Homo sapiens: one gene and its partners. The protein of the gene in region 3 interacts with the protein of the main gene of each other region in a pairwise test. Each region holds a gene or a part of one and is shown on either strand. Other genes may lie near its edges.

Evidence for each region.
Region 1: the proteins of ZRANB1 (region 3) and METAP1 interact in binary tests that used the Homo sapiens proteins (3 or more experiments, as listed by UniProt).
Region 2: the proteins of ZRANB1 (region 3) and MYEF2 interact in binary tests that used the Homo sapiens proteins (3 or more experiments, as listed by UniProt).
Region 4: the proteins of ZRANB1 (region 3) and IQUB interact in binary tests that used the Homo sapiens proteins (3 or more experiments, as listed by UniProt).

The regions. Positions count from the first base shown.
Region 1 is NC_000004.12:98,998,437-99,006,459, reverse strand, and holds part of METAP1 (methionine aminopeptidase 1), read right to left. Parts: intron 1-8,023. UniProt on the Homo sapiens protein: Cotranslationally removes the N-terminal methionine from nascent proteins. The N-terminal methionine is often cleaved when the second residue in the primary sequence is small and uncharged (Met-Ala-, Cys, Gly, Pro, Ser, Thr, or Val).
Region 2 is NC_000015.10:48,174,807-48,183,270, reverse strand, and holds the start of MYEF2 (myelin expression factor 2), read left to right. Parts: upstream 1-4,975; 5' UTR 4,976-5,033; coding exon 5,034-5,194; intron 5,195-8,464. UniProt on the Homo sapiens protein: Transcriptional repressor of the myelin basic protein gene (MBP). Binds to the proximal MB1 element 5'-TTGTCC-3' of the MBP promoter. Its binding to MB1 and function are inhibited by PURA.
Region 3 is NC_000010.11:124,972,728-124,980,750, forward strand, and holds part of ZRANB1 (ubiquitin thioesterase ZRANB1), read left to right. Parts: intron 1-917; coding exon 918-989; intron 990-1,472; coding exon 1,473-1,671; intron 1,672-8,023. UniProt on the Homo sapiens protein: Ubiquitin thioesterase, which specifically hydrolyzes 'Lys-29'-linked and 'Lys-33'-linked diubiquitin. Also cleaves 'Lys-63'-linked chains, but with 40-fold less efficiency compared to 'Lys-29'-linked ones.
Region 4 is NC_000007.14:123,496,305-123,504,327, forward strand, and holds part of IQUB (IQ motif and ubiquitin-like domain-containing protein), read right to left. Parts: intron 7,060-8,023; coding exon 6,898-7,059; intron 6,813-6,897; coding exon 6,640-6,812; intron 6,449-6,639; coding exon 6,293-6,448; intron 603-6,292; coding exon 392-602; intron 1-391. UniProt on the Homo sapiens protein: Adapter protein that anchors the radial spoke 1 (RS1) complex to the A microtubule of outer doublet microtubules in axonemes. The triple radial spokes (RS1, RS2 and RS3) are required to modulate beating of the sperm flagellum.

The DNA of each region.
Region 1 (8,023 bases), on a different chromosome or scaffold from region 3:
ATACAAGCACACATAAATAAAACAAATACAGCAAAATGTTAACTTAGGTGAAGAGTATACTGCAATTATACTATATTCTTCTTTAAACTTTTCTATTTGTTTGAAATTTGTCACAGTAAAAAGCTAGAGAAACTCAGTAAAATTATAAAAAATTCAAGGAAAACATAGTTCCTTGTCTATAACATTCACTAGCACTTCCCTGTTATTTATCTTTTTTCCAGTACTTCTTGTCTATACAAGAATAGCATAAGCCCCTTGAAGACAGTTAAACCCTTTTAAATTTTTGCAAGTGTACTGATGCAAATAGCCCAGTGAACACTGCTGTTCATGAGTAATACACAACTCCAGACTGGCAAAAATAAAAAGTCTGTTAACAACAAGTCCTAGCTAGCATATGAAACAACATAAACTCTCTATAAGTACCACCATTTTTGTTTTTTGTTTAATGCTAAAGTCTGAGATTTTAGTGCAGTCATCCTAGTATGTACATTGTACTAAATATGTAGTTTCTTATCCCTCACCCTCAGCCAGCCCTCCCCCTTTCTGAGTCTCCAAAGTCCATTATACCACTCCGAATGTCTTTGAGTACCCACAGCTTAGCTCCTACTTGTAAGCGAGACGACCTGGTACTTGGTTTTCCATTCCAGAGTTACTTCACTTAGAATAACAGCCTCTGGTTCCTTCCACGTTGCTGCAAAAGATATTATTTCATTCTTTTTTTAATGGCTGGGGAGTATTTCATGATGTATATATATCAAATTTGCTTTATCCACTCATCAGCTGACACTTAGGTTGGTTCCCTATCTTTGCAATTGTGAAATGTGCTGCGATAAACATACATATACAGGTGTCTTTTTATATAATGACTTCTCTTCCTTTGGATAGATACCCAGTGGTTTCTACAGTGGTTGTACTAAATTACATTCCCACCAGCAGTGTTTAAGTATTCCCTTTTCATCACATCCATGCCAACATCTATTGTTCTTTGACTTTTTAGTAATGGCCATTCTGGCTGGAGTAAGGTGGTATCTCATTGTGGTTTTAATTTGCATTTCCCTGATGATTAGTGACATTGAGCATTTTTTCATATGTTTGTTGGCCATATCTTCTTTTGAGAAAATTCTATTTAGGTCATTTGCCCACTTTTTGATGAGATTATTTGATTTTTTTTTCTTGCTGATTTGTTTGAGTTCCTTGTAGATTCTGGGTATTAGTCCTTTGTCAGATGCATAGTTTGCAAATATTTTCTCCCTACAGGTTGTCTGTTTACTGTGATTATTATTATTATTTTTGCTGTGCAGAAGCTTTTTACTTTAATTATGTCCCAATTATTTATTTTGAAGTACAACCACTTTGGAAAACAATCTGGTATCATCAAAGTAAAGCTAAACACATATCCTATGACCCAAAAAATTTACTCCTTAGGGGTATACCCAAGAGAAATTTTTACAAACAGGCACCAAGAATCAGGCACAAGAATGTCTAGAGGAGGACTATTTATAATAGAAAAACCGTAACAACCCAAATTTCCATTGACAGAAGAATGTAAAAGTTATGATATATTAATTTATTGGAATATCACATAGCAGTGAAAACAATGAAAATGAACCAGAGCTACAATGAAACATGGATAAATCTCAGGAACATAATGACAAACAAAAAAACGCATGTTGTAAAAGAATACATGTAATCATTTTGTTGGTAAAAAAAATTTCAAAAACATTAAAAATACATTTTTTAAGAAATCAAACATGGAAATGCAAATGAATGATAAACACAAAATTCAGGATATGGAATACCTCTTGGATGAGGGACAAAGAAAAAGGAGCCTTCTGTTTTCACTTGTTTTCCTGGTAATGTTCTTTTTAATAAGTTAGATGGTAGGTATATAGGCATTTACTGTATCATGCTTCTTTAGATCCCGTGGATGATTTGCTGTGTTATTTTGTGTGTGTGTGTGTGTGTGTGTGTGTGTATGTGTGTGTGTGTGTGTGTGTGTGTGTGTGTGTGTGTATCTGTCCACAGTTCCTTGGCTAATAACTCCCCTAGCCTTGTTGCAGTCTCGTTATAGTGTTGGGTGCTTTAGGCCTCAGGAAACAGACTCTCTCCAACCTTCTCCTGCTCTCTTCCTTTCACCCTACCTGAAGGCAAGTGTCTAACCCCCACCTTTGTGATGTGGGTCATAAGACTCTCATTCCAGAGAGGGTCCCACCCCATATACCCTGAAGGAATGAAGATTCCATAAAAACCCAAGAGGATTGGGTTCAGAGAGTTTCCAAATAGCTAGCTGAACACTGAACTCATGGAAGCTTGGCATCCCTTCCCCAATACCTTGCCCTATGCATCTCTTCATCTGTATCCTCTGCAATATCCTTTATAATAAACTAGTAAAATAAGTATTTTCCTGAGTTCTGTGAGCTGCTCTAGCAAATTAACCAAACCCAAAGAGGGGGAGCCATGAGAACCCCAACTTGAAGCCAGTCAAGTTTTAAGTTCCGGAGGCCCAAACTCGTGACTGGTGTCTGAACAGGGTGGGAAAGGGGCAGCTTCGAGGACTAAGCCCTCTATCTCTGGGATCTGACACTATATCCAGTCAAACAGTGTAGGAAATGAACTAAAGGACACCCAGTTGGTGTCCACTGCAGAAATGATTGCTCGCTTGGTGGTGAGGAGAAACCCCCATAGGTTTGGTTACAGAAATCATCTGTGTTGATGACTGTTGTGGTATGAGAACAGAGGGAAAAAAGTTTGAGTTTTTTTCCCAAACATTTACTAATATTTTTATTCTACTCAATATCAAAAACAATTTAGAAAACATACATCGACAGATCCTGACTTTATGGTCCTTAAAACTTTAATTCAAAAGCAATATTAAATTATTCATGTAACAACATTCACATTTTTCTCTATCATTTGTTTAGTGGAGTGAGAAGTTAACAGTATTCTAATAGTCAATCCCATCCCTATTACCAGTTAGTGAAATAATCAGTAATAACATAAATCCCCACTCAGAAGACAAAAAAAAGTTATGACATTTTTAAAACCTAACGGAACTTACATTTACCTATTTTATTGAACGACTAAGCCTGTAACTTGCTGGATAAGACAGGGTTAACCTTCAGAATGTGATGCAAAGATTGGTTTGCGTTTTGTACTTAAATCACAGAAGAATCATTAAACACACATTCAAAACACAGAGAAGTCTCTGTTGCCTCCCACTTTATAATGATAAGGGAAGTTGCTAAAGTTACAATTTCACTTATCATTTATATCCTAACCACTCTTTAAAGGCTTGAGCCTGTGACCCAGATAAATGCCACATTAGCAGATAGCAGACCCCAATTAACAGGGGCTTTTCTTGGTTTGTTGTTTTTTGTTTGTTTGTTTGTTTTTGAGACAGTCTTATTCTGTTGCCCAGGCTGGAGTGCAGTGGCGCAATCTCAGCTCACTGAAACTCCACCTCTCAGGTTCAAGAGATTCTTGTGCCTCAGCCTCCTGAGTAGTAGCTGGGATTACAGGCATGCACCATCACCACCCAGCTAATTTTTGTATTTTCAGTAGAAACGGGGTTTCCCCATGTTGACCAGGCTGATCTCGTAGCAAGATATCTGCCCGCCTCAGCCTCCCAAAGTGCTGGGATTACAGGCATAAGCCACGGCGCCTGGCCTTAACAGGGTTTTTAGAAATGCTTTCCAACAGACATGGCACAGCTCTGGTGTATCAGGAAGAAATCTTTACTGAGCCTTGCAATAAGTCAGGTTACTGGAGATAAAAACAGGAGAGAACTTATTTACAACTTACAAAGCATGAGAAGTTCCATGGGGTCCCTATCCTAGTTTCATCCATAAGGTGCCCCACACACACATGCACACACAATGAGAAAGGCAGGCCTCGTTTACAGAGTGTTTTGAATTGCTCTTTATTCAAACCCAGAGACAAGACTGATACCAATCAAGGAAATCAAAGGAAAAGACTTATAATTGTTGAGCTGGGAGCACTACCTGCCCAAGCATGAATAAAAGAATGCTTCATGTTAAAACTGTGAGGTCAGGCGAAGTTCAGGATCAAGCACAAAGGGTTGTAATTACATTTATATTCCATTACATTAAACATTTGATACAGAATGAAGCTCAACGGTTGCTTTATAAAGTATTTCTGCCTATTTAATATCTATCTAAAAGTGTTTGCTATTGCAGTAATACCAAAGACAATTACAGAAGGAGTTACCGTGCCACTGCTTTTCTTCCGAATATCTAGAGCTGGAATGAGCTTAGCTATGCACTTATGTCTGTCACTCCTATGAAATTTACTAAAACTTAACTAAAATTTTGCAAATATGCTAAACATGAAAAAGATTCACCTTAAAAAACCATGACTAAAACTTGATTTCAATCCACAAACTAAGTGAACAGTATAAGATCACATTTCCTATAGCACTTCAATTTCCAAAAAGGTAACTCAAAGACTGGTATAACTTTTGATTGCCTACCAACCAAATGATGCTCGTTTTTTTGTTGTTGTTGTTTTACAAATTCTACTGTAATGTAGGTATATTTCATGCCAAAACTTCATAGATGACCAGAAGGCCCTCAAACCAACAATAATCCACTAACTACACTGTGAGAACCACTGTTCTGGAAAAGGATATAGAATTAGCTTAGGATAGTTCAATTCTGGGTTCATGTACCAAATCCTGTACCATTATTATACGTTCCTGAGTAAGTCAAAATGATTTAAATTTTCGAGGAATATTTATTGAAGAGTAAACAGAAGGTAAAAAATTGAAAAGAAATTAAATTCAACTATAAGTGAATAAACAAATGACAGTACACCCATAACAGTCTTTATAAAGGATCATGTAAATGTAGCCATGACATGACACTACCAAAACACTGGTTAAGACATTAAGGATGAGAAAATTCTCTAAGATTATATGTATTATGGTTGCCATTTTTGTAAAAACATACACAACTGTGTGCACATGAATAAATACGCAAATATGTTCTTAAGAATACACACCAAAATTTCATAGAAATCATCTCTGGGTAATTGATTATCTTCACACATATTTTCTATTTTTCTACAATAAACAATTTATGAAATTATTTTTGTTTTGTTTTAAAAAGACTCATAATTTCTCTTTACCTCATCCTATCTTTTTGCTTATAAGAAGCTATGGCATTTGTACCTAAACTCAGCTAACTTACAGGAGTGTTTAAGGGTGGTCTGAAGTGACATGAGGAATTTAAAGAAAATCCCTATAAATAAAAACGCACAACATGATAATATCTCCTTTAATGAAGATGAATTCCAGAAACACCCTGCACTGGCAGGAATGTTGTTACTGACAGAGAAAGTTTCAGAGGGCAGGGTTGCATTTCAAAGATACTGCATGTTATAACGGCAATTCCTTCTCTACCTTCTAACTCCAACCTACAAGATGCTCAACAAGACTTTCTTCCAGCCAGGTGCAGTGGCTCACACCTGTATAGACAACACTTTGGGAGGCTGAGGCAAAGTGGAACTCAGAAATTCAAGACCAGCCTGGGCAACACGGTGAAACCCCGTCTCTACCAAAAACACAAAAAATTAGCCAGGTGTGGTGGCTCAAACTGGTGTTCCCAGCTACCTGGGAGGCTGAGGTAGGAGGATCACTTGAGCCTGGGAGGTGAAGGTTGCAGTGAACCAAGATCACGCCACTGCACTTCAACCTTGGGTTGACAGAGTAAGATCCCAACTCAAAAAAAAAAAAAGAGAGAGAGAGAAGAAAAACTGTCTTGTTATTTAAAAAAAAAAAAAAAAAAGACTTTCTTCCTGGATTCAGTTAATCATGTTACCTACCACTTCTTTTAAAGAACCTATTATTGGATTTGTCAAAAATGTTCATAAACAAGTAACATTTCCCCTCAAAGATTTTTAAGCCTTCCTTGGTACTGATTTTAATAACATTACATATGAGGTTATATGCACAATAAGGCCCAAATTTACTATATGCTCTACTAGGCACCCTGGATGCTCTCTTAGTCACCTTCTGCTCAACTCCATTGAAGAGGATGCTTCATTAAGCAAAGGAGGGGACTTACCCAAGGTCATGGGAGCAAAATCCAGGTCTCCTTCCACTTACACTATGCTTACTACCTTTTATGCCTTATAAATATAAATAGTTACAGATCACTCAGGTCCCTCCCAGCTGATCCTCTAACCAGAGGAGACAGCAACTGCCCTATGCTATTCACAAAGTTAAACATCAGCTAAAAAACTGAAAAGTAACTAAATTCAACCATAAGCAAATAAATGAGTGTATCAACAATATACTATACTATTCAGTGTTTACAAAGGATAATGTAAATACAGAATTTCTTTGTTTTCCATTGCAAGCCCACTGATGTCTTTTCTTTCATGTAAGGAAATGAGGGCCTACTGTGGGCAAGGCACTTTGGAAAATACAAAAATGAGTAAAACACACCCTCTGTCCTCAAAAAATTCTTACACACAAATGAAAAAGACATACATAAACTATTAAATAGGAAGGAAAACTTCTATTAATAAACACAATCGAACATCAAGAACTCTTGGAAAACTCAATTTTCAAGTAAAACTGGTTGTACTCCTCTAAAGAACAAAAGCTTTCCTTAAAATCAAACATCCTAGGCTGGCACAGTGGCTCATGCCTGTAATCCTAGCACTTTGGGAGGCTGAGGTAGGCGGATCACGAGGTCAGGAGTTACAGACCATCCTAGCTAACACGGTGAAAGCCCGTCTCTACTAAAAATACAAAAAAATTAGCCAGGCGTGGTGGTGCGCACCTGTAATCTCAGCTACTGGGGAGGCTGAAGCAGCAGAATCGCTTGAACCCGGGAGGCAGAGGTTGCAGTGAGCCGAGATCACACCACTGCACTCCAGCCTGGGTGACAGAGCAAGACTCGGTCTCAAAAAAAAAAAAAAAAAAAATTAAGCATCCTAGATAAAATATTTCTACTTTCCTAAACATAAAACAGTATAACAATAAAAAGAGCTAACATTCATTAAGTTTACTAATATGCTAAGAGCTTTACATACTTTGGATTTAGTCTTCATCAAAACCCTGAGATAGGTATTATTAATAGCCCCATTTTAAAAAGATACAGCTGAAAAAGAGAGGTTATTTGCCCAAGTCACATAACTAGTAAATGATGGAGCTGTGATTCAAACACAGCAGTATACCTCTCTATTTTGATGCATTTATCCATTAATTCAAACATTTAATGGCCACCTACTGCATACAGAGCATCATACTGGGAAATGAGAACAGGGCAGTGAACAAGATAGGATCATTCATGAAGTTCACCTTCCGACTAAAAAACAGACATTCTCGGCCGGGCATGGTGGCTCACGCCTGTAATCCCAGCACTTTGGGAGGCCAAGGAGGGTGGATCACCTGAGGTCAGCAGTTCGAGACCAGCCTCAACATGGAGAAACCCCATCTCTGCTAAAAATACAAAATTAGCTGAGCGTGGTGGTGCATGCCTGTAATTCCATCTACTTGCGAGGCTGAGGCAGGAGAACTGCTTGAACCTGGGAGGCGGAGGTTGCGGTGAGTCGAGATCGCACCATTGCACTCCAGCCTGGGCAACAAAAGCGAAACTCCGTCTCAAAAAAAAAAAAAATCCTCATTTTTCTAACAGGTGAGGTAATCATAGATTGCACAAAAGGTCATAAAGGAATAAACAAGGTGGTGTGACAGAGTAACTGGGAATGCCTTACTTCTGTTAATGGTGTGATAGAAAGGCCTCTTGCAGTTTTGTTCTGTTTGTTCCCAAAGACAAGCTGGCCAGACAGCCAGGCCAGGGACCAGAGCAGTAGAAAGAAAGACCTCCTAGTGATCACAGAAGTGTTAAGGAAAATCCCTAATTTCTTCTTTTTGGTTTTTTGTTTTGTTTTGTTTTTGTTTTTTTCTTGAGACGGAGTCTTGCTCTGTTGCCCAGGATAGAGTGCAGTGGTGCAACCTCGGCTCACTGCAACCTCCACCACCCAGGTTCAAGTG
Region 2 (8,464 bases), on a different chromosome or scaffold from region 3:
TGATTTTATTTTTCAAAGCACGATTGCACACATAGGGTAACTGTCTCCTTCATATGTGGGTACCTCAGAAAGCATGCCAAATGGTTTAGAAACTGTGCAAAATATTACCTATTGACACTTAGCATCGTTTTTGCCCTTCTAAGTTCTGTCTCCTATGAGACATTTATCAAACTCTGTTGCTAATAGTATTTCAATCTAAATTCTACCAAGGAGAGGCACTGTTACAAAATTTGCAAGGAGGAAGGGAAAGAGAAGCCATCAATTTCAGTAGTGGCTGCAGGTAACTTTGTGGGTATCAGCAAACGGCAGATGGAATGTTAAGTCAGCAGATTCTGGGCACAAGGAAGTCTTGAGACTTATCTTGTTGTTACAGGTCAGAGGGATCCTTGGCCATGGTTCCTTGTGACTCCTGCTCTTCCTAATATTTCAAACTCTAGCAATAGCTCCTGGACCTTTGCCCTCTCAGCCTTACTAATTGTTGTATAAGCCTCTAAGACTTTATGCATTAAATCCTTTCCTAGAGGAAACATCTATAGTGTTTGACTGAGTCAAAAGCTTTCTTTTCCTGACTGATAAAAATAGCTAGAAATGAAAATCATGGAAATATATTTTGTTTATATACATACTGCATATTGCATATACACACATATATATATTCTGCATGTTTAAACACTTTGTGAATTGAAACATAGTAACATGAAATCACTTCAATCTACCATTTTGCAATACACCATGAAAAAATATCACATCAGTATACTACTGAAAAATCATAGCTTTCACCAAACTAGGCTCATAAGCAGCCATCAGGAATGGTGTGACCCTTGAGGAAAAGGGCTGTAATACGGTACAATTTTTGGATTCTGTTTAGTTTCATGAAATGGAGGATCACAGACAGAAATCCAATGGCAATGCCTGAAGGCAATGGAGGTTATTTTCTGAATTATTTGAATAATTGAGGTAAAAGTGGAGTTTCTGCCTGGATTATTCAGATAATTGTCTTAATTCTAAACTTCACTTAGCTAGCTGGTAGAGACCTTTGTATAGGATGTATTTTTGGAATGCTAAATGCTAAAAAAAAAGAACTCCTAAAGTAAGCAGAGCTGTGGTGTAATGAGGGTGTATTGGGGGTGATACAGAGATACGGAGGGAGAGAGAGAGAGAAAGGAGGAAAAGAGAAGAAGAGAGAGAATGGTAAATAGCTAATCGTCAGAATAAGATTAAACTTTACTTTCTACTTGATAGTAACCAATGTCCACATTTTCATCACAGAATGAACTTTCTATAAAAAGGGAAATACATATGTAGATTTCAAATATAAACCATAGTATTTTAAAAAGTTACGAATTCCTTTTTAAGCTTTAAAGAGGTAAATTTTTACTTTGTAAGGTTTAGAAACTTCATGCCTTCAAATCCAGCAATTTATATAGTGAAGCAAATTGACTTAAAAATTATACCATACTTTTTGTTTTACTTCATATTGTTGGTCTTTGCCGTTTAATTCTTTTTTCTTTTTTGAGTTTCTGAATACCCCAGAGAAGGTAATCTATTTATTATGAATTCTAGGGCTAGAATATCAGCACAAATATGGAAGTATTTTTAGAAGCTATTGTCACCATAGAAATGTTAGCCACCATTTTTGTCTAGTTTCTTTTTCTTTTAAATTTTATTATTATCCCTAAAACTTAATTCTTAAAGACAAAATAAATTAAAAAAAAGAAGAATGATGACATCCATTCTCTTCTTCATTGGTAACAGAACCCTGGGCAGTAAGCCCAGCCCCCAAATTATTTGCCAACCTCCCCCACAGATGAGTGTGTCATGTGACTAAGTTCTTGCCCATAAGCGGAAGTGTTGTGTGAGACTTCTGGATAGGTCCCTTTTTTTCTGGACTCCTTCTGACCTACAATGCCGACAAGGTGCCTCGATCTCCAGCAGCCATCTTGGGTCATAGGGCAACCTTAAGAATGGAAGCCTCACACTAGGATGGCGAAAGATTAAGGTAGCAGGAACCTGACTTCACGATGACTGTGAAGCTACTATATATCCTCTGGGATGCTCCTTCTGCATTTATTTTACTTAAGAGAGTAAAAATGTATATCTTGCTTAAGACACTATTATTTCTAGTTATTGTTATTAGCAGATGAACACAATTCCTAAGTGATACATATATTAAGGTATTAATTGAAAATATTTTGTGATTTCTAGGATTAGATTTCTAGATACGTGTAATAGCTTTTCCCCTATCCCGCCAGGTACACACACATAAACATGCATTCTAATTTGTAAGAAAGAAAACTAAGTGATTATGTGAAGTTGTACCAGTAATATATTTTGTGCAATTGCAAAGGATAATGCTTTTGCAATGTGAATCATGGGAAAATAAGAATTTGAGCATCACTTAAGAATTTTTCAATGTACCTACATGCACTAAAAAACAAACAAACAAAAAACAAAAAACCAAGGCCGGGCGCTCTGGCTCACGCCTGTAATCCCAGCAATTTGGGAGGCCAAGGCAGGCAGATCACAGGGTCAGGAGATGGAGACCATCCTGGCTAACACGGTGAAACCTGTTTCTACTAAAAATACAAAAAATTAGCCGGGCCTGCTGGCGGGCGCCTGTAGTCCCAGCTACTCAGGAGGCTGAGGCAGGAGAACGGTATGAACGCGGGAGGTGGAGCTTGCAGTGAGCAGAGATGGCGCCACTGCACTCCAGCCTGGGTGACAGAGCGAGACTCCATCTCAAAAAAGACAAAACAAAACAAAACAAACCAAAACAGTAGAGAGGAAGACAAGCAAATACAGAAATGGAATTCAGCAACAGAATATTAATAGTTTTTTCTTTATCTTTTGCAATTAATAGCAAGAAAGGAAGGAAAGATCAATCTATTGAGCAGTCAGATGGAATGGTAAAGATTAATCATTCTCTTCCCTTCAGAAGTTGCCTTAATTCTTTGTCTTTTAAGATCCAGCTCTTTTATAAGGCCCTCACCAATCTCTCAGTAGGAATTAACCTCTGCTCTTTATCAGGACTAGAACCAAGCTACAGCGGGTGAGGCATTTGTCTTGGGTACAAAAGTTAAAACTCAGTAATCAAGATAAATATTTTAATGGAATATTTTAATTGGCAAACTAAGGCATGTGGGCCAGTCTCCTGTTTTTGTAAATAATTTTTTAATTATACTTTGCTTTTATTTGTATTATAGCACTTAAATAGTACTTTTTACATTAGCCCTCTCCCAACAGGGCTGTACTCATTTTTGTATTCCTCATGTACCTACTACTCTGTTTGAAGCATAAAGGCCTCTTAAAAAAATCTTGCATTGAGTTGATTAAAGGATTTTTGCAAGAATATATTGTACTGGTGATGGTGGGGTTCAATTTTCATACTGAATTCAACAATAGCAAAAGAATAACAGAATGATGACTATTTTGAAAGTACTTATAATTTAGTGCTGTGGGAAAAATCACTTGGCTTGTCTTTGACTAAAACCCTGCTGAGCTTAGGGAGATAGAGAATTGTAATATTACATTATGTTCATATAGCACTTTTTCCTACATAAAGTGCTTTCTTTTAATCCTCACCTCAATCCTGTAAGGTCGGTATTGCTATCCCTATTTATTGTAGAGAGATTGAGAAATGAGGTGACTTGCCCAGGGAGTTATGGGCAAAAAGAGGCAGAGCTGGGGTTCTAACCCAGATTTTGTCTGTCACAATTGAATGCCCTTTCTGCGATTATAAATCTTATGTCTCAGAGTTGAATGAGAAACAATTTATACAGCAACTACAATAGCATTCTTATCATTAAAATGTTCTGATTATGTGTGTGTGTGTTTGTGTATGTGTGTGTGTGTATGTGTGTGTGTGATGAAGTAGCTGAACTTGGTATTTTTCGGTAGAGGGTAGGAAACTACACATTGAAAAGCCGAAGATGAAATTATGTTATTTGAGTATTACTTTCTAACTATAACTTTACCACTGATGTGTGTATGATATTCTGCAAAGTGACTAAACTGTACGTGTTTGCTTCTTCATGGAAAAAAAATTTGGGAAGGCATTTAAACTTTTCAGCTGAAAAAGGTTATGTCAATGTGAAAGATTATAGTACTCGAGAATTAGGAGTTGATTAAATTTAACGGTTTCCTTTTCATACTTAGGGGGAAAAATCTACGACTGTATTTTAAAACTCCATATGGCAATTAAATTTGAGAGCGTATAACTAACTACTTCACTAGAATTTCCATCAGTATACAATAAACACACAGTCAAAACCTCAAATGTCCATTATTAGCCCATCTAGTAGACGATATTTTATAATTATGGATTCCCCATATTGATTGATGTCCAGAGAAAAACTGCAGTCTTCTCTTACTAAGCTGATAGTTGAGTTCCTGGGAAATCCTCACCCCCTAAGAACAAATAATTCTCAAAGAAATTCAAAGTCATTCCTTTTGGTGAATTGCAATCAGTCATCAATAACTATTTATGGAATGTCCGAAGGGTGCCTAGGCATTGAAATGGCAAGAGACTTATATTTGCTTAATTCAAAGGATTTCTAAAGGCAGTCTGAGGACTTGCAAGAAGTCTTTAAAGATGCAAAGTGGTGTGTTCTTTAACTGCCCCTACCTGGAATGAATTGAACAGTCTGGGTGTTAGGGCTTTGATGTCTAATCCCGCTTTGCAAGCGAAGACTCCACTGGTGCCAAGCGACAGGCGGGCTGGTGGGCAGACATGGCACCACCACCGGGGGCTTTCAGGACTGGTCCAGCCCTCCCAGGCAGGTGTAGGGCCGACTGCAGCAACAGCGGCCCTGACCCCAGCTCCCATGGCTCCCCTCCCCCCGCACTCCCACCCCCCGCACCCGGCACACACCATCTCCCAGTCACCCAGTCTCGACCGGTTCTCGCGAGATCCGGGTTACTGAGCGCTCGGGGCCTTTTCAAATCGGGATCCGTTACCGCTTCCCCGGCAGCCGCCATTGTCGCGCTCGGAGCCCCTCAGCTCAGGCGGCCGAGGCGGAGGCAGCGGCGGCGGGATGGCGGACGCCAACAAGGCCGAGGTGCCCGGGGCCACTGGTGGCGACAGCCCGCACCTGCAGCCCGCAGAGCCGCCGGGCGAGCCGCGGCGAGAGCCGCACCCCGCGGAGGCGGAGAAGCAGCAGCCGCAGCACAGCAGCAGCTCCAATGGCGTTAAAATGTATTGTCTTTTCCTCCGGGAACCGGGGCGAGGTGGGGGGCGGGGAGTCTACCGGGCGGCTAGAGGCCGGGCTGTGCCCCGATGGGGGACAACCACCCCCAGACCCCGGCCCGCCCCCGGGCCATCGGCTTCCTGAGGAGCAGGTGCAGCTGGGCCGCTCCCAGGCCCTTCCCCGCCCGCCCCAGGCCTGGCCGCCTGTGGTCTGGGAGCCGGGGCTGGGGGCCCGGGGACCAGCGCTCTTCCCTGATTTCTAGCCCGAGACAGCGAACACCCCTCTTCCCTGACTTTGGTTAAAGAATCTTTGAGCAAAGCTCAGCGACCGCCACGGTTTGCAGGAAAATGGTCCCCCTTTAAGGACCAGTAGTTAGTGTTCATCACTAGGGAGTATCTAGGGATGACATCATCGGACATTTCCTCTTAACCACCGAGAACATATTTAAAAGGAATATTCCTGGCTTCTTTCTGAGCTTCACAAGTTTAGTGTTTTGTTGTTTTCTAAAGTGTATGTTCATTTTTAAACTGATTTATACCGAGAGGAAGTTTAATAATGTGCTGTTAGACTCTATGTTTTGTGTTACTCTTGAATTGGCTAGACGTACTTTAAAAAGGGAAATGTGCGATGTGCGTGGCTTCCCTTCCCACTGGGTAATGTGCGTCAGCTGTGGAGAGTATTTTTTTTTTTAACTCAGTGTATGATTATCTTAAGTTTGGTATAATAGATGGTTAAGATTTTTTTTTTCCCAAATGAAGGAAGACTTTTAAGGTCGCAGCTGTCACCAGTGCCTATAAAGAATTTAGTTGACCCCAATCCATAATAATTTCTGGTTCTAGGGAAATGTTATGCTCTCCTTTGTTCCTGTCCTGTGGGAGGATATGAAGTTAAGCGCTTACTTTCATATGCCTACCTCCTTAAACCTGAAGTTGAAAGTATGTTAATAATTAAGTGAAAACATCCTTTTCCTTCTCTGTTATGCCTCAGAGCAGAAAGCAATAGATATATGCTCACAGTAAAATAGACAAGGGAAAGGTCTTTCTGACCTTTGTATAAGCATGTTTGAAATTGTATGGTAAGAACTGGACCAGTCTGTGTAAAAGTTGGTGGCAAAAAAGATGGGGTAGCTCTCCCCAGCTCTTTGACACTCTTGCTCTCAAATGAGTTTGAACAGGATCGGCAGCATCTTCTAGGAGAATAGAGGTGCAGGTATAAGAGATTGGAACTTAGTGGAGTTTATTCCTGGATGAAGAGTGGTGCACCTCAGTAATTGAGGAACCAGAAAGGGAATGAAGTGCTTTCTACCATGCTTGCCAAAATGTGGGCTTTCTGGAATTTGGCATTAAAAATAGAAATGAAAACCGGTGGAATGATAAACTTAAAAATATGTGCTATTCATATCTAAACACGAGTATACATGCCACCTTTTCTCCTGAACAAAAAGTGCAGCCTTGAATTACAGAGAGAAGCCCTCCTATACTTGGGTATGATTAGTTTTGATATAGGGGAAGTTTGGTATCTAAACCTCCATCAGATTTTCTATTCCCTTCTAAAGTCTCTTCATGATTTAGCAAGACAGGAAAAGAGAAAGGAGAAAGGTGGAGAAAGAATCCTTTTCTAATTTAGGAAGAGAAAAATATAAGGTGAAGAAATGAAGAAATATTACTAGTAAATACAGATTATTTCCATATTGCTTATAATTCGCCTCTCCCTTTCTCTTTTTCCCAGAAGTTGAATCGAGTCCAATTTACTCTCAGGGATTTCTCTTACTGTCTATTCCATAAGAAGATTTGTGATGGTCCAGCATGAGTCATTCAAACTGAATAACTAGCGACCTAGTCCTTTTTTTTTTTTTTTTTTTTTTTACTTCGTGAACTAGTAGGAGTGGATAACAACCCCAATACATAAACCTTGAGTTGATTACCATATACTTTTAATAATAAAAATAATTCATTGTTGATTATAAAAATTACCATAATATTGCCCCAAATTATGTATTGGTTGGAATTGAACAGAGTACTGCTTGTCATCAGGATTGAAATAATATTTGCTGAGGTTAATCCATAGTTATTGAGGGTGGGAGACCACTATGTCTTATTCTTCTTTGTATTCTTAAGGCCTAGTAAATATTTGTGGAAGAAATGCAGAAGTGAACTTTCATGCTTATGAAACTCATATACAGGGAATTTAGTTTGCATATTCACACCTTTAGAAAAGATCCGTTTTCCAACTGTAGTCTTCTTCTTTAACGCCAAATGGTATACTAGCTCTCCTTTTCTTAAAAATGAATAGGAGGGAAAAGAGCAGTATTATTATAACTTTATTATTCATGTGTAATTAAGTATAACTTTGGAGTAGGTAGAGATTGAGAGTTATATTAGGGTACTATAAAATATTAAGCATTGGAGCAAGGTAATGTGTTCTTTAGCTGAGTGATTTTTATTAGGAATAAAGACTAGAACTGTTTCCCCCAGCTTTATTGAGGTAAATTGACAAAAATTGTATATTTTGAAGTGTACAGTGTGATGGTTTGGTATACAAATAAATTGTGAAATGATTACCACAATCACGCTAATTAACGTATCTGTTACCTCGCATAGCTACCATATTTTTTGGTGTTGAAAATACTTAAGATCTATTCTTTAAGCAAATTTCAAGTATACAGTAAATATGTTAAGTATAGTCACTATACTGTACCTTAGATCTACAGAACTTACTCATCTTATAACTGAAAGTTTGTGCCCTTAGAACATTTCCCCATCCCCTGCTGCCCTCCACCTCTGGTAAACACCCTTCTACTCTCTGCTTCTGAGTTTGACTTTTTTAAAAGTCTGTGTGTAAGTGAGATCATGTAGCATTTGTCTTTCTGAGTCTGGCTTTTTTCACATAGCCCAATGTCCTCTAGGTTTATCTCTGTTGTTGCAAATGGCAAGATTTTGTTCTTTTTGTAAGGCTGAATAATAATATTCCAGTGTGGATGTGTTGTGTAAACATAAAATATAATATATATCATGTTTCCTTTAATCATTTATCTGTCAATGGACACTTAAGTCGTTGTTTCCATATCTTGGGTATTGTGGATGATGCAGCGAACATGGGAGTGCAGATATCTCCTTGAGATAGTGATTTCATTTTCATTGGATATATACCCAGAAGTGGCATTGATGAATCATGTGGTAGTTCTGTTTTTAATTTTTTGTGGACCCTTGATGCTGTTTTCCATAATGGCTGTACCAATGTATATTCCCACCAGCAGTATCTAAAGGTTCTTTCTCCAC
Region 3 (8,023 bases):
TTCTAAAATCTTTCATCTGAGATTCTGAGATCTGTTTGTTTTGTTGCTGTTTTTTTTTTTTTTAGATTGAAACGGGGTCTTGCTCTGTTGCCCAGGCTAGAGTGCAATGGGCGTGATCATAGCTTACTGCGCCTTCAACTTCTGGGCTCAAGTGATCTCCTGCCTTGACCTCCTGAGTAGCTAGGACTATAGGCACATGCCACCCACCCCTGGCTAATTTTTAATTTTTTTGTAGAGATGGAGTCTCGCAGTATTACTCAGGCTAGATCTCAGTGTTTTTAATTTTTATGTTCAGACAAACGGATTTTTACAAATTGTAGGAGATAGTAACTAAGTTTTCTGAAACTGGAGGAAGTTTCATTTGAAATGCACTTGTTCTGAGTATTTAAGCTTACCCCAGAATGATTAGATTTTTAAAAATTTATTTTTTATTTTTATTTTTTGAGACAGGGTCTTACTCTATCGCCTAGGCTGGAGTGCGGTGGCAGGATCACGGCTCATTGCAGCCTTGGCCTCCCCAGGCTCAAACAGTTCTCTCACCGTAGCCTCCTGAGTAGCTGGGACACAGGTGTCTGCTGCCTTGTCTGATTAATTTTTGTATATTTTTTGTATAGAGACAGGGTTTTGCCGTGTTGCCCAGGCTGGGCTCAGAATCCTGAGTTCAAGCAGTATGCTGGCCTCAGCCTCCCAAAGTGCTGGAATTATAGGCGTGAGCCATTGCACCCGGCCCAGAAAAGAAATATTTTATATCACACATGTTACACTGGTATATTAAGAAAAAGCTATCTGATAACCTTCAATGGAAAGGGAGTTATTTTAGAGAAAGTTACTAGTAGGTAATTAATAAGTGTAATTAAGTATAAGTTAAGTGTAAGTTATGAAACAAAAGATCTTTTAAGTTTGCATTTTCTTTGTAGATATTGAAGATTTGCCCCCAACAGTCCAAGAAAAATTATTTGATGAGGTGCTTGATAGAGACGTTCAAAAAGGTAAGCATGGAATTAATGAGTATAATTTACCTTTCATCTGATCAAGTAAGTTTTGTTTAGTAAGGCATGGTGTAGTTTGGTGTGTAGTCAACTTGCTTTATTTTTATTTTAAATTAAAGACGTAAAGTCCTGAAGTTCAGTGTTATATTGTATGGTTCACTGTTACAGAGTGAACAAATAAAGATACAAAAATTTTAAAACCTTGGTTCTCCGCTTCCTGTTCCAGAATGTATATATTTCTATATGAAACACTTTTTAGAAAATAAAACTGTAAAGAATTTAAAAGTTTATTAAATTATTCTAGAGACAGAAGATGTTTCAAGTACTCAAAAGTTTATATTTCAATTGGTCAATTTTATTTAGGTGTTTATTGGTAAATTACATATAAACCATTTTATAGCTAGAAAATAGGTTCTTCTCCCCATGAGTATTCTCTAATGACATAGGTATGGAAATGAACATGTATTTAAATCCATCGTACAGAATTAGAAGAAGAATCTCCAATTATTAACTGGTCCTTGGAATTGGCTACACGTTTGGACAGTCGACTGTATGCACTTTGGAACCGGACTGCAGGAGACTGCCTACTTGATTCAGTTCTACAAGCTACCTGGGGCATCTATGACAAGGACTCAGTGCTTCGGAAAGCCCTGCATGACAGCCTGCATGACTGTTCACATTGGTGAGCTGGCATTCTGCCCTGTTTCAACCCAGGAGTGCATTTGCTGGATTATTTCCTTGTAGTGGTGGGATACTTTTTATGTCAGTTATATTTTCTATGGAAACTGGAGGAAAAACAGTTCATTTTGGACATTAAAATACTTTGAACACGTCCATGGTTTCTGTTTTTGTTTTTCCCCCAAGAAATGAGATAAAAGCAAGAATCAATGGTTTTTATACATTTTTTTGCTAAATTTTAAAATAGAAACATTTGAAGCTTTAAAATGCAAGCATTTATTGTTTCTATAAGACACAGGCAGTATATTTGAACATTTCAAATGCAGCATTTCAAGTTATATATAGTAGCCTTAAATATTGATAAGGCCGTTGCTCATCTTTTTAGGGATTGATTGACTGATTGATTGATTGATCCATCGATGGAAGCAGGGTCTGGCTCAATTGCTGTGCTGGAGTGCAGTGGTGCAGTCTTGGCCCACTGCATCCTCCACCTCCTGGGCTCAAGCCATCCATCCACCTCAGCCTCCTGAGTAGCTAGAACTACAGGTGCTCATCACCATGCCTGGCTGTTTTATGTATTTTTGGTAGAGATGGAGTTTTGCCATCTTTCCCAGGGTGGCTTTGATAATCCTGATCTCAAGCGATCCGCCTGCCTGGGGCCCCCAAAGTGCTTGGATGACAGGCCTGAGCTGCCGCACCCAGCCTTATTGAATATTTGTGTTCACATAAGAGGTTATCTTGACATTGTGTTACAAGTTTTTTTCCTTCCTGAGGGAGTCTTAAGATCACATTTTTTATTTTGCAAATTTTCAAACCCATGGAATAATTTTAAAAAAATTCAGTGCAATAGATCCTGGTATTTTCTTCATTCAGTTGAGCAGTTATTAACATTTTGCCACACCTGCTCCATGTCTCCATACAGAAAGACTCGTGGGTCAATTCGTTGTAGACATCATGATGCTTTACCCTTCAAAATATCAACATACATCTTTCCAGAATAAGAATATTGTCCTACTCACCCACATCCCCATTCCTACATCTAAGTAATTCAACATTGATTCTGTTATCTAACAGTTCATAATCACATTTCTTCAATTGTATCAAAGTGTTCTTTATATATATATTTTTTAACAGCATGCAATCACTGGAAAAATAATTGTTTTTGTGAATGAATAGTTCAGTCTTTACATTTGTTTGACTTATGTGGTATTTTTTTGGTTCTTTGAACATTATCTCATTTAGTTATTACAGGCATGAGCCACCGTGCCCGGCCTATAAATTACTTTCTTGAGAGCTAAATTGTAGATCAAAGCATAATGCAGTATGGCTGGGGTTTGTGGCTCATGCCTGCAATCCTATTGCTTTGGGAGGCTGAGGCAGGCAGATCATTTGAGGCCAGGAGTTCAAGACCAGCCTGGCCAACTTGTTGAAACCCTGTCTCTACTAAAAATACAAAAATTAGCCAGGTGTGGTGGTGCATGCCTATAATCCCAGCTATTCAGGAAGCTGAGGCACGAGAATTGCTTAAATCCAGGAGGAAGAGGAGGTTGCAGCGAGCCAAGATCGTGCCACAGCACTCCAGCCTGGGTGACAGAGTGAGACTGTCTTGTGGGGAGCGGAGGGGGAAGCATAACGTAATAGAGTAACAATTTGTGGGCACATTAGAGAAATAAAATAACTTCCTGGATGACCTGACTGGATGTATAATAAAGCTAAAGAATGAATGTGTCACTCCGGTAGTTTTAGTCAATTAGTAATTGTCCTGGAGAGAGGGCTCTTTTGTGCCTCTTAGTGGAGATGGCTGTCTGGTAGTATGAAGTAGGTTCATCGGGCTGGGTAAGCCTGATGCTGGTCAGTGCTCTGCCGGTCTGGCCCTCTTGATCAGATCCTGTGGTCACCAAGCAGCTTCCTGTTGCTGATTTTCTTAGCTTCCTACTGCTGATTTTCTTGACCACTGCTATGGGCCTGTCTATGTCAAGAGGATGAACCTGGTTTGGTTCCTAAGACAGTGGGTTCTTGGCATTGTGGTTTCACAGGTCTGCCTTGTAGTTTTGGTTAATGTCACTCTGCCCTGTAAGATGGAAAGCCAGGTTTGAACTGTGGTAAATCTACCACTTTGCAGGTTCTCTCTAAAAAGGCAGCCAGTAATCTTTTCTTTGGTGGTAATTTCCTTTTTTTTTTTTTTTTTTTTTTTTGAGGCAGAGTCTTACTCTGTCGCCCAGGCTGGAGTGCAGTGGCATGATCTCGGCTCACTGCAACCTCTGCCTCCCGGGTTCAAGCAATTCTCGTGCCTCAGCCTTCGAAGTAGCTGGGATTACAGGTGGCGCCACCATACCTGGCTAATTTTTTGTATTTTTAGTAGAGATGGGGTTTCACCATGTTGCCCAGGCTGGTCTCGAACTCCTGAGCTCAGGCAGTCCGCCCACCTCGACCTCCCAAAGTGCTAGGATTACAGGCGTGAGCCACCGCGCCTGGCCTTTTCTTTGGTGGTAATTTCCTGATCTGTTGAAAGGCCAAAAGTACACTGTGGATTTTAGAAGTGATGTCTTTTTTTTAGTGATGAGGGTTTTTGGTGGTGGTGTTTGTTTTTTGAGAAAGGGTCTTGCTCTGTCACCCAGGCTGAAATGCAGGGGCACGATCTTGGCTCACTGCATCCTTCACTTTCTTGGGCTCAGGTGATCCTCCCACCTCAGCTTCCTATGAGTGGCTGGGACTGTAGGAGTGTGCCACCACACGTGGCTAATTTTAAAATTTTTCTGTAGAGATGAGGTCCTCACTGTATTGCCCAGGCTGGTCTTGAACTCCCGGACTCGAGTGTTTCTTCTGCCTTAGCCTCCCAAAGTGCTGAGATTACAGGCATGAGCTACTACTGCACCTGGCCTTTTTTTTTTTTTTTTTCTTTTTTTAAAAAGACATTTGTGGTGAGTAAGAATTGCTTTGGGGTTTATGCCCACCTGTTCCTCAGAGCTGGCTATGGATGATCTTATGAGTGAGTTGTCACTAATGTTTGTATCGGGACTGGAATTCTCAGATGGTTGCAAGTCATTTGAGGTCCCAGAAGTCCAGCATAGAGATAGGGAGATTGTGGGCAGATCTCTTGAGCCTAGGAGTTCAAGACAAGCCTTGGCAACATAGTGAAACCCTGTCTCCACCAAAAAATACAAAATTTAGCCAGGCGTGGTAGTGTGTGCCTGTAGTTCCAGCTACCTGGGAGGCTGAGGTGGAAGGATTGTTTGAGCCTGGAAGGTTGAGGCTGCACTGAGCCAAGATCATGCCACTGCACTCCAGCCTAGGTGACAGAGTGAGACCCTGCTAAGAAAAAAAAAAAAAAAAAAAAAAAAAGATGGTTTGGTGGAGAAATACAGTCTGATGTTGTAAATAGGCTAGATAGGGAGTGGCTACTAGGGTGAGAAGGAACTAGGCTGTTTGTTTACAGCCACTGGCAAGAGTTGTTGCAGCAGAACTTTTAGTCCATAGTCCTGACTCTTAAAGGATGCTTCAGGAGTGAGCACCTAGGGCTGGCATATGGACAGGTGTCCCAGAACAGCATGGTTTGGCATCACCTCCTCCAGTCCCTGCCACCGGGGAGCTTTGCCCGATGGTTTACAGTTCAGGCATAGGAAGCTGCATTGATTACAGTGATCACACAGACATCCTTACAGTATTGGGGGGTGGGTTGGGGTGAAAATTAGTGGTTAGATAGTAAGTGTTGTTGCCATGGATTCGGGAGATCAGATATACTAGCCCTAAGGAATAACCCATACATAGTTCTTGTGTTGAGTTGCATTAGGTTTGTCCACTGGGCCTGTCATGTGACCAGTAGAGAGTAGAGTGAGCAGCCGTGGGTTTTCTAGGCCAGGAGAGGAGGAGCCAGCATGTAGCTTGTGTAGTCTCCTTTTAAAGATGCTCTTTGCTGAGGTGCCTTTTGCACTTAATTGAAATCAGCTGGAGTGAGATGTTTTCTTAAGTCATATAAGATACATAGTAAGAACTGAGAAAGCAATTTTCTTTTATTTGAACCCCTCCACCCGTCACTTCAAGATAGGCTATTTGTGTTTGTAGCTAGCTGTGCTGTTCTCTTGGATACCCGTGATTTTAGCTGACTCAGGTTCTCAAGTCTGAATATATTGTACTTGCCTTTCAGTGACATGCCAACCCAATTTCCCACGGGGCAGGTGGAGGCGTTTAATGTTAATTGGGGAAAAAAATCAATATAAGTCTTTTAGAATTATTCCTTTTTTTCTTTTTGGAGACAGGGTCTTGGTCTGTTGCCTGGACTGGAGTGCAGTGGTGCGATCTTGGCTCACTGTAACCTTATACCTTGTGGGCTCAAGCAATTCTCCCACCTCAGCCTCCCAAGTAGCTGGGACTACAGGCACATGCCAACATTCCCAGCTAATTTTTTTTTTTTTTTTTTTTTTGTATTTTTTTGTAGAGACGGGGTTTCGCTATGTTGCCCAGGCTGGTCTCAGACTCCCACCTCGGCCTCCTAAAGTGACTGTTTTTGTTATGAAGAATTATCGGCCGGGCCTGGTGGTTCAGGCCAATAATTCCAGCGCCTTGGGAAGCTGAGGCTGGAGGATTGCTTGAGCTCAGGAGTTCAAGACCAGCCTGGGCAACATAATGAGACCCTGTCTGAAAACAAAGAAAAACACAATGAGATACTACTTCACATGCACATAAATGGCCATAACCAAAAAGACAAATGATAACAGTGTTGTTGAGAATTTGAAGAAATTGGAATCTTCATACATTGCTGATAGCAACGAAAAATGTTCTAGGTCTTGAACTCCTGGGCTCAGGTGATCTTCTAGCCTCAGCCTCCCAGTTAGCTGGGATTGCAGGCACATGGGCTCCTTGTGATTTTGATTTGCATTTCCCTATTTAATGATGATACTGAGTGTCTTTTCATGTGCTTATTGCTCATTCCTATAGCGTCTTTGGTTTAATATCTTTCCACGTCTTTTGCTCATTTTTAAATGGATTGTCTTAATATTGATTTGCAGATGTTGTTTGTATCAGGTCCCTTATTGGATATCTGCTTTGCAGATATTTTTTTCTATTCTGTGGCTTGTCTTTTCACTTCATTAGCAGTGTCTTTTGAAATCACGAGTCTTTAATTTGATCAAGTTCAGTTTATCAATGTTTTTCTGTTATTGCTCATGCTTTTGCTGTTGTATCTGAAGAGATTTTTGTCTAGCCCAAGGTCACGAAGATTTACTCCTGTGTTTTCATAGAAGAATTTTATAGTTTTAACTTTTACATTTAGGTCATTTTTGTTTTACATTTTGAGGTCATTTTTGTTTAAAGTGTGAGATGTCCTAAATTCACCTTTTTGCATGTGGATACCCAGTTGTTTCGGTACCTTTAATTGAAAAAAACCCTTTCTACATTCTATTGCCTTGGCAATTTTGTCGAAAATTAGTTGACCATAAAAGTAAGGGTTTGTTTCTGGACTCTTAATATTTTTCTATTGATTTATTTTTCCACTGGGCTATCGTTATGTCATTACCAGACTGTCTGGATGATCATATCTTTGTAATACATTTTGAAATCTGGACTGTAAGTCATTTGACTTTGTATTTCTTTTTCAACATTGTTTTGACTATTTTGAGTCCTTTGGATTTCCATATACATTTTAGGATACAGCTTTATCGATTTTTGTAAAAAAGACAGCTGGGATTATGATTGGGATTGCATTGAATCTGTAGATTTAATTGGGGTGATGGTGGTATTGCCAGCTTGACAATATTGAGCCTTCCAATCCATGAACATGGAATTGAGTTTTGAATGTTAAACCAAACTGGTATTCCTGTACCATTTGGTCATATATTGCTGGATTTGGTTTGCTTGTCTGTTCTTATGGAGACTCTGGTAGTATCAGAGTTTAGGTCTTGGGGTGGTGAGGATGAACATTTTAACATGTTTAGTTTTAAAGTATATTTCATTGAACCTCCCTTCTTCAGTGGTCTTTGAAGAGTTTTGAGTGCAATCACCATTGAATTTCTGGCTGGCTTAGCTGTCTTATTTATAAAGTTATTTTAGGCACCAAGAAATTTCTAACTGCATATAACTTTCAGTATTGACAATTTCTCTGATATTTCTCCTTGAACTTTTCAAAACAATGTATTTCATCACTGTTGCCAAAATTTTCAAGACACATTTATCTTAGCGATTATAAAAGAATATACATATTTTAATTTTAAAACATTTGGAATTATGATTAAACATCCTCAGTTACGTGGAGTATGAAAAATGTTTTAAACTGAGTTAAACCTCTGGAACATTATATTTTAATTTCTTTAGGAAATATATTTACTCTCTAAGGAGCCCTTCATTAAATTACTGTAAAGTTA
Region 4 (8,023 bases), on a different chromosome or scaffold from region 3:
AGCAAAATCAGACAGGATGCTGGATTGAGGGATTAAAGAACAGCTCAACTCTGAGTTCAAAATTCCCAAACCACAAGAAAACTAGATTACACAGTACTTTCTCTCTTTATCTCACATGAATGAGGATCAAATGAAATAATATACTAAAACTGCATAATTCACAAAGCAGTATGTACATTTTAATTGTTAATATAAAAGCATTTCTAATTTCATTTCAGCCTTAATTCTTATTCCAAATATAAAGTGGTATTCATCTTTCAAAATTCTCTACTGCAAATTTCCAAGACATCTCCCTAAAATAATAACACCTTCCTTTTGTCTGCAGTAAATCTGTTTTTCCTATTAATGAAGAATTTAAAAATATTTTTTGCAAAGCCTGTGTCCAACTTACATTCTAATGCATTATAAAGAAATTCAAAATCTTCATTTGTTTTAGGATTATGCCTCCGGTGATAGTCCAATTTTATCCATTCTTCTTTTTCTCTTATCTTCCTTAGTTCTTGCTGTGTTTCCCATTCCAGTCTTAAGCTTTTCTGTCTTCTTAAATTCTCTACGAAGATTTTAGCATGCCATTGCCTGTAGTAAGTCTGTATCACTATCACCTATAGTTAAATTAAAAGGAAATAGAAAGTGCCTATCATCAACTTTTTGATCAGACAATAAAGGCAATGATGATTATTTCAATTCCAATTCCACAACAAAATAACTGAGTCTAGTTTTAGCTCCAAATACATATTTTCACAAACACTAACATAAAAAACATGTATAATGCATGTGACTGCTATTTGACTTTGACATCTCGCAAATATACCTTCCCAGAAGGATGTTTGTACGATCCTTAACAGAATAGACTCTGGAGTAAAACTTAGTTTGAATCTTCCTTCTGCTACTCACTAGTTGTTTGATTGGATAAGTTACTTGCCATCTCTATGCTTTAGTACCCTCATGTGTAAAACAGTGATAATAAGAGTATACATATAAAGTGCTTAACCCAAGCCTGGTACATCATGAGTCCTCAATAAATACTATTATTGTCATACATATTAATTATCTCCATCTTATCTTAAATGCCACTAGCTTAGGCTCATGTTTATAACAAAACTGTGTTTTCCTAAATACACATCAGGTAGGTATGTGTGGAAACCACCAAAGGCAGGTTAGATAAAATGGAGACTGAAGCAAACAAATATTTATTAACTTGTATGAAACATGAATATGTTTGAAAGTACACCATAGTACTAAACCCTCAAAAAGTTTATGATATAGCTGAGAGAGTTTATCATTTTTTTCTGAGAGTTTATAATTTTATTTATTAAACTCATAAATAAAAATAAAATGTGAAGAGGCCGGATCAAGACTGATGATAGAGCTTATGCTGATGCATCCCTTACTCTCATCCTAATGCCTAATAATTGTAGAAAAACTATGTAAAGCAGATATCGACAAAGATACTAGATCAAACTGAAGGGGTCCCCCAAAAGAATAGAAACTTTGAAGAATCCCTTCAACAAAAGAGGCCAGTAGAATTAATTGAAGAAAGAGTCTGTAACCTAATCATGCACTGGAGAAGCAAGTCAGAAAAAACAAGGGGCTCTAGGACTGCTCTAAGCCCAAAACTGATGGATGGTCTGAGCAGAGTGGCCACTAACCAGGTGACTTTAAAAACTGCAAAAGGGATAGGTTCCTCTAAAATAATTAGGCAAGGAGCAACAGAGATATTTGTCCCTAGGCAAGAGTGGTGAGTGTCCCAGAAGGTGACACCCAGGATGAAAAAAAAAAAGCCCCCTATCCAGAAAACTAGGTTTCTCCCATAATCAAGCTTTACATTTCCCCTAAAATCATGGGGTCAGACTGGGTGAACCAATATGCTATTGGCACACTGGACATTAAGAATCTCAAACACATCAGCGGCATCTAGAAAACTATTAGCAATGCAAATTTTCAGGCCCCACCCCAGAGCTATTGATCAGAAACTCCTGGGTAAGCACAGCATTCTATATATTCATGAGCCCTCCAGATGATGCTTATAGTAAAGTTTTAGAACTACTAGAGTAAATCAAAACAAAACAAAATACAAGAGCAGACTAGATATAGTTAATATTTTCACAGAGAAAGGAAAGGCTATCAGTATAAAATAATATAATGAACCAAGAAAAAAGACTGGCAAAAATTTTATTTTTGAAATTTAAAAAATTAATAGAATATGGATTAGCCTGAGTGCTATTAAACTTGTTCAACTTATTTAAAACACCAAAACACAGTTGTTTAAACAACACAGAAGTTTTTTCCCTTTCACATGACAATCCAGGGATTAGCAAAGCAGTTTAGGGCTCGTAGGAAAGCTCTGTCATATTTAACAAATGGCTTCCTACTTATATGTCCCAGATGGCTGGTCCACTTACCATCTTCCAACCAGTAAATAGAGGGAAAAGGAACAAAGAGCATTTTAAGAATGATAACTGTAAGTGGCTCACATTGTCCCTCACATCTCGCTGTCCAGATCTTAGTTATATGGCCTCACTGATACACAAGGGAAGTGATGAAATGTGGTCATCAGTGGAACAGCCACATGCTCAGATAAAGCTTTATTACAATAGGAGAAGGGAAAAAATGGGTATTGACAGAGAACTAGTAGTTTCTTGTAAGCTGATCTGCAGAATGTGTAGAACATAAGAAGTAATAAGTAGGTAAGAAAATTAGGTGAGAAAATCTTTTAGCATGCAGGACAAAGGCTCATAAAAATTTAAATGAATGAATGAAAAATAAGAGACACAAAAGATAAATCCCAGCATTCCAAAATGTTTCCTTTTTTTCTTTTTTTCTTTTTAGGCGAAGTCTCACTGTCACCCAGGCTAGAGTGCAGTGGTGTGATCTCAGCTCACTGCAGCCTCCGCCTCCTGGGTTCAAGTGATTCTCATGCTTCCCCTCCTGAGCAGTTGGGACCACAGGCACGTGCCACTATGCCTAGCTAATTCTTGTATTTTTAGTAGAGACAGGGTTTCACCAAGTTGCCGAGCTTGGTCTCCAACTCCTGGCCTCGAGTGATCTGCCCACTTCAGCCTCCCAAAGTACTGGGATTACAAGCATGTGCCTCAGCATCTGGCCTCATCCCAAAATATTTCTGAGATAAGTTCCAGATAAAATAAGGAAAGTTGATTACAGAAATTCATAAAAACATAATAGAGGTATATTTCCCACAGCAAGACATGGACTCTCGGAAAGGGTACATCACCAAGTCTCAAGCATATTACAATAAGATTACCAAATACCAAGGATAAAGTGAAAATCCTGACAGCTTCTAGAAAGAGGAAACAAAGAAAGGAGGGGGCAGAAAATGAAGAAAAGCCTAGTAAGGTTCTTGACTTATTCATGGAAACGATATATAGGCTGATTAGATATGCACTTGGTATAAAAAAATTAGTTATGTTAAAAAATGTGTATGAGTAACTGTCAGAGGCGTGTGAACCAGAGCAACTCCATCTTGAATAGGAGCTGGGTGAAATGCGGCTGAAACTTACTGGGCTGCATTCCCAGACAGCTAGGCATTGTAAGCCACAGGATAAGATAAGAGGTCAGTACAAGATACAAGTCATAAAGACCTTGCTAATAAAACAGGTTGCAGTAAAGAAGCCAGCTAAATCCCACCAAAACCAACATGGCGACAAGAGCGACCTCTGGTCATCCTCACTGCTACACTCCCACCAGCGCCAAGACAGTTTACAAATGCCATGGCAATATCAGGAAGTTACCCTATATGGTCTAAAAAGGGGAGGCATGAATAATCCACCCCTTGTTTAGCATATCATCAAGAAATAACCATAAAAATGGGCAACCAGCACCAGGCAACCCTCAGGTCTGCTCTGTCTGTGGAGTAGCCATTCTTTTGTTCCTTTACTTTCTTAATAAACTTGCTTTTACTTTATTCTATGGACTTGCCCTGAATTAGTTCTTGTGGGAGATCCAAGAACCCTCTCTTGGGGTCTGGATCGGGACCACTTTTCTGTAACATAACCACTAGAAAAAACAAAATACTTATTTCTGAACTATGAAAGAACAAAAAAAGAAACATTTATTCAAACCAACAAAAAGAAAAGGCTAAAAAAAGCATAAACAAATAAGAATAATTAGTAAATAAAACAAAATGAAATAGCAAGAATGAGTCCAAAAATATCAGTAGTCACGCAAAATATCATCTTTCTTGAAACAAGAAAGATTTAAAATAGTAAGCAGTGAACTCAAAACCTATTAAAAAAATAAAATAAACATGACCCAAGTAGAAAGGAATCAAGGTTAAAAGAACTTATTAAACGGAAATGTACTCCCTATACCGGCTTTTAACAAATTCCTCTGTTAACAGGTCACACCTCACTTCCACCTCCCACAGAACCTCCAATTCACCTTTCAAGACTCTATGGGGCAAATCTATTTGGTTCTTGATGCCATCCTCGTTGGCAGCATTTAGATTTTCACTTCCTCTGCTCTACTAAGTCAAGTTAACACTTTTCCATCTGCTTTAAAACTTCAAAAAAAAAACACAACTCACATTTACTCTTCTCATGTATTCTTTGTCCTTGTATATTTATACTTTTATTCTTTCAATATCATTTTTTGGAGTTTGGAAAATGACAGAAATTTCCATTTCCTTACTTAATATCCATTTTGCCCTACTTTCTCTTACTAAGATTGCAATCTCATTGAGGAGCAATGATATGCTACTTTAAAAATTCATTTATCACACACTTTTGCAGTAGGGATAGTCACATGACATAGTTCAAGCCAATGGGATGCAAGTAGAAGTCACTGGGTGGGGCTTTCCGGGGAAATCCTTGAAGGTGGCATTCATGGAACATGCTGCCTTGACTTTTCCCTTCTTCTCACATGGAATGCAGGCATGATGAAAGTTAGTCAACCATTTTATCTTCATACAGTAACAAGCTCATGATGAGCTTAATGGAGTAGAAAGATGAAAGGAGTTTATGATTCTGATGACATCATAGAGTCACCACCCATGCCCAGTATAGTAAGAAAGTAAAAATTAATTAAGACTGAGAAAGTAAAAAATTGTCAGGCTGGAATAACAGGCACTAATCAGGTCAGCTACAAAATTAACAAAAACAGTATTTCTCCCAAGGACACTCTACAACTATAAAATATTTCAACAATCCCCTTCTTTTAGTGACTGCTATCTTCTTACTCACTGAGAAACTTCGTTCTCTAAATTCAGAAACTATCAGAAACTTTCCTGTCTGAAATTAGATCAGTAAGAAACAAACATTCCACTCTTGCCTAGAGGTTGCACGTCACTTTGACAGAGAGAAGCAGCCTCAATTATACAACCAAGGTGCTGAACTTCAGAGAACTTCTAAGAAACATTTCCCATCTCTTTTAACTTTGTTTCCAAAGGAACGTGACCTTGGTCTACTTCACAGTCCAGACCTAATGTTGGCCCATTTATACACACCCTTGTTTTGCATTGAGACAATCAGAATACTGCTTCCCCTAAATCCCACTCAAACTTCACTCTTCCCCAAATTATATAATAACTCCATATATTCCTTTATTTGGTGAAATTTAGTTTGGACTGAAAAAGTAAAAAATTATCAGGCTGGAATAACTGGCACTGATAAAGCCTGCTATAAAGTTAACCCCATGGTTCCCCTGGTATACTGTCTCCTTCAGGGCAATTAAGTCAACAGACTTAACTTTTTTTCACTACAAGTTTGTCTCTAAAGGTCTTGGGCTGAATAGCCTAGCTCCAGATTTCTTGTCATTTGAAAAGCAAAATCTCTTAAAGTCACTGCTTTCAGGTCATTTTTACTCACAGTAAATTGATGGTAGGAGGTAGATCAAATAGGTTGAAAGTAAAAGAATGAAAAATGAGAGACTATGCAAAAAAATAAAACAGAGTTGGAGCGGCTATGTTAATATCAGAGAAAATCGACTACTGTCCTATTTGGTTTCAATTAGTCTCGAAAGTTCCCTTGGTGATTCTACTGTGACAAGATTTAAGGCCAAGGGACAGCAGTGTTGAGAAGGCTAATAATGGCCAAAGGCAATACACAAAGAAGCTGGGTTTCCCTAAGAGAAAAGGAAGGATTAGGAGCATTTAGGATGCTGGTTCTTTACATGGGGGAATACTGGAGATAAAGACTGCTTTGTTAGCAGTGAAATATGACCCATACTCATGAGCATTCTTTCTCAAGCAAATGTGGCTTGGAGAAAGAGACACACTCGGAACAACTGGCTTATATATCAAATTTTTAGTATTCATCCACAATAAAAGTTATCTCACCGCCTTTAGTCTTTGAGCATGGTATTCTGCTGCTGAAAAATACTTTCCTGGTGTTACCAGTTTATCAGTCATATTTGATACATATACACCAATGTTAGTCATCTGTGTGGATGTTGTATTTGTAGTTTGTTGGAGATTTTTTTTCTGAAAAACTGTCTAAAAGAAAACATTAAAAATTTAAATCAGTATCCCCTATATATATACATAAGGGAGTTTTTCTACATATGTGAGTTCATTTTCTTTTATTAATTGCCATATAATTACTTAAGAGAAATTTGAGAGAGTCATACAGTACAATTATTGAGTCTATACCTTCAAAAACCTAAAGAGACAAATAAAAACATTACCTGCGTATCCCTACAAAATATACTGAGTCTTTCGGGAATCCTTTTAGGTACAGTTTGTGTTCCAGCATTGTGATACTCTACTCCTGTTACTTTATGTCTGAATCCACCAAGAAATGGTTTGTGAAAGTCAGATTTGACAATCTCAACAGGTACCTGCTGGTATTGATCAAGTCCTGAGAGATAACACCAAGATTCAATGAAAGCTCAACCAAGAAGGGACTCAAAAATACTTTATCTAAAAGACATCAAATAACGAACCAGTTTGGACAGTGACAGTTATGATTTGAGAGACATCAGTTAATCCATCTATTCTTCTGACTGGATACAGATCTGGATTTGTAGAAAAGATTTCCACTTGTACAATTTCCTGTGGCTTAACTCCATGTTGTACTAGAGTCTCATTATTTTTAAGAATTTTTCCTAAAAATTGAAATAAAATTTTTAAAAGTTTTATGACAAAGAAATGGCTATTCATTGATCTTATTTTTTGTTTTTAATTGACAAATAAAAATTGTATATATTGTGTACAGCATGCTTTGAACTATGTATACATTGTGAAGTAGCTTAATACAGCTATTAACATGTCCATTACCTCATATACTTATCATTTTGTGGTAAGAACACTTAATATCTATTTTCTTAGCAATTTTCAAATATGTAATATATTATTATTAACTATAGTCACCATTTCTAGAAATGGCTAATTACACATTCTCATTTTAAGGAGATGGAAAATATCAAAGGTGAACTTTGAAACTTTGAACACATATCATTTAATTATTAAATATACTATTAATATATTTACTCATAGGAACACATATCGTTTAATTATTAAATATAGTATTAATAGTTTCTACCTCTTGCTCTGATGTTAGTACAAAAAACTCCATAATAGGAAGAGTTTTAGTGGCATTCTTGAGAAGGAATTCGGCATTATAAATAACACTACATTACTCTCAGTTCATCAGGAATATAAATACATAACAACCATGAAACTCCATAAACATTTAAAAAATAAAGACATTCTATGGTATGAGCAGAATAATATGCTAAACATTCATTCTATTAAAAAAACGCAATGTGTTAACTGTAAGTACAGGACATACCCATATCAAGAGGAAGGATAATTATTTTAATAGCCATCCTACCCCCCATATTAGTTCTTTCTCACATTGCTATAAAAAACTACCTGAGACTGCATAATTTATAAAGAAAAGACATTTAGGCCACACATGGCGGTTCATGCTTGTAATATCAGCACTTTGGGAGGCCAAAGTGGGCAGATCACTATGGCCAGGAGTTCATGACCAGCCTGTCCAACATGGGAAAACCCAGTCTCTACTAAAAATACAAAACTGAGCCAGGCCGTGGTGGCATATGCCTG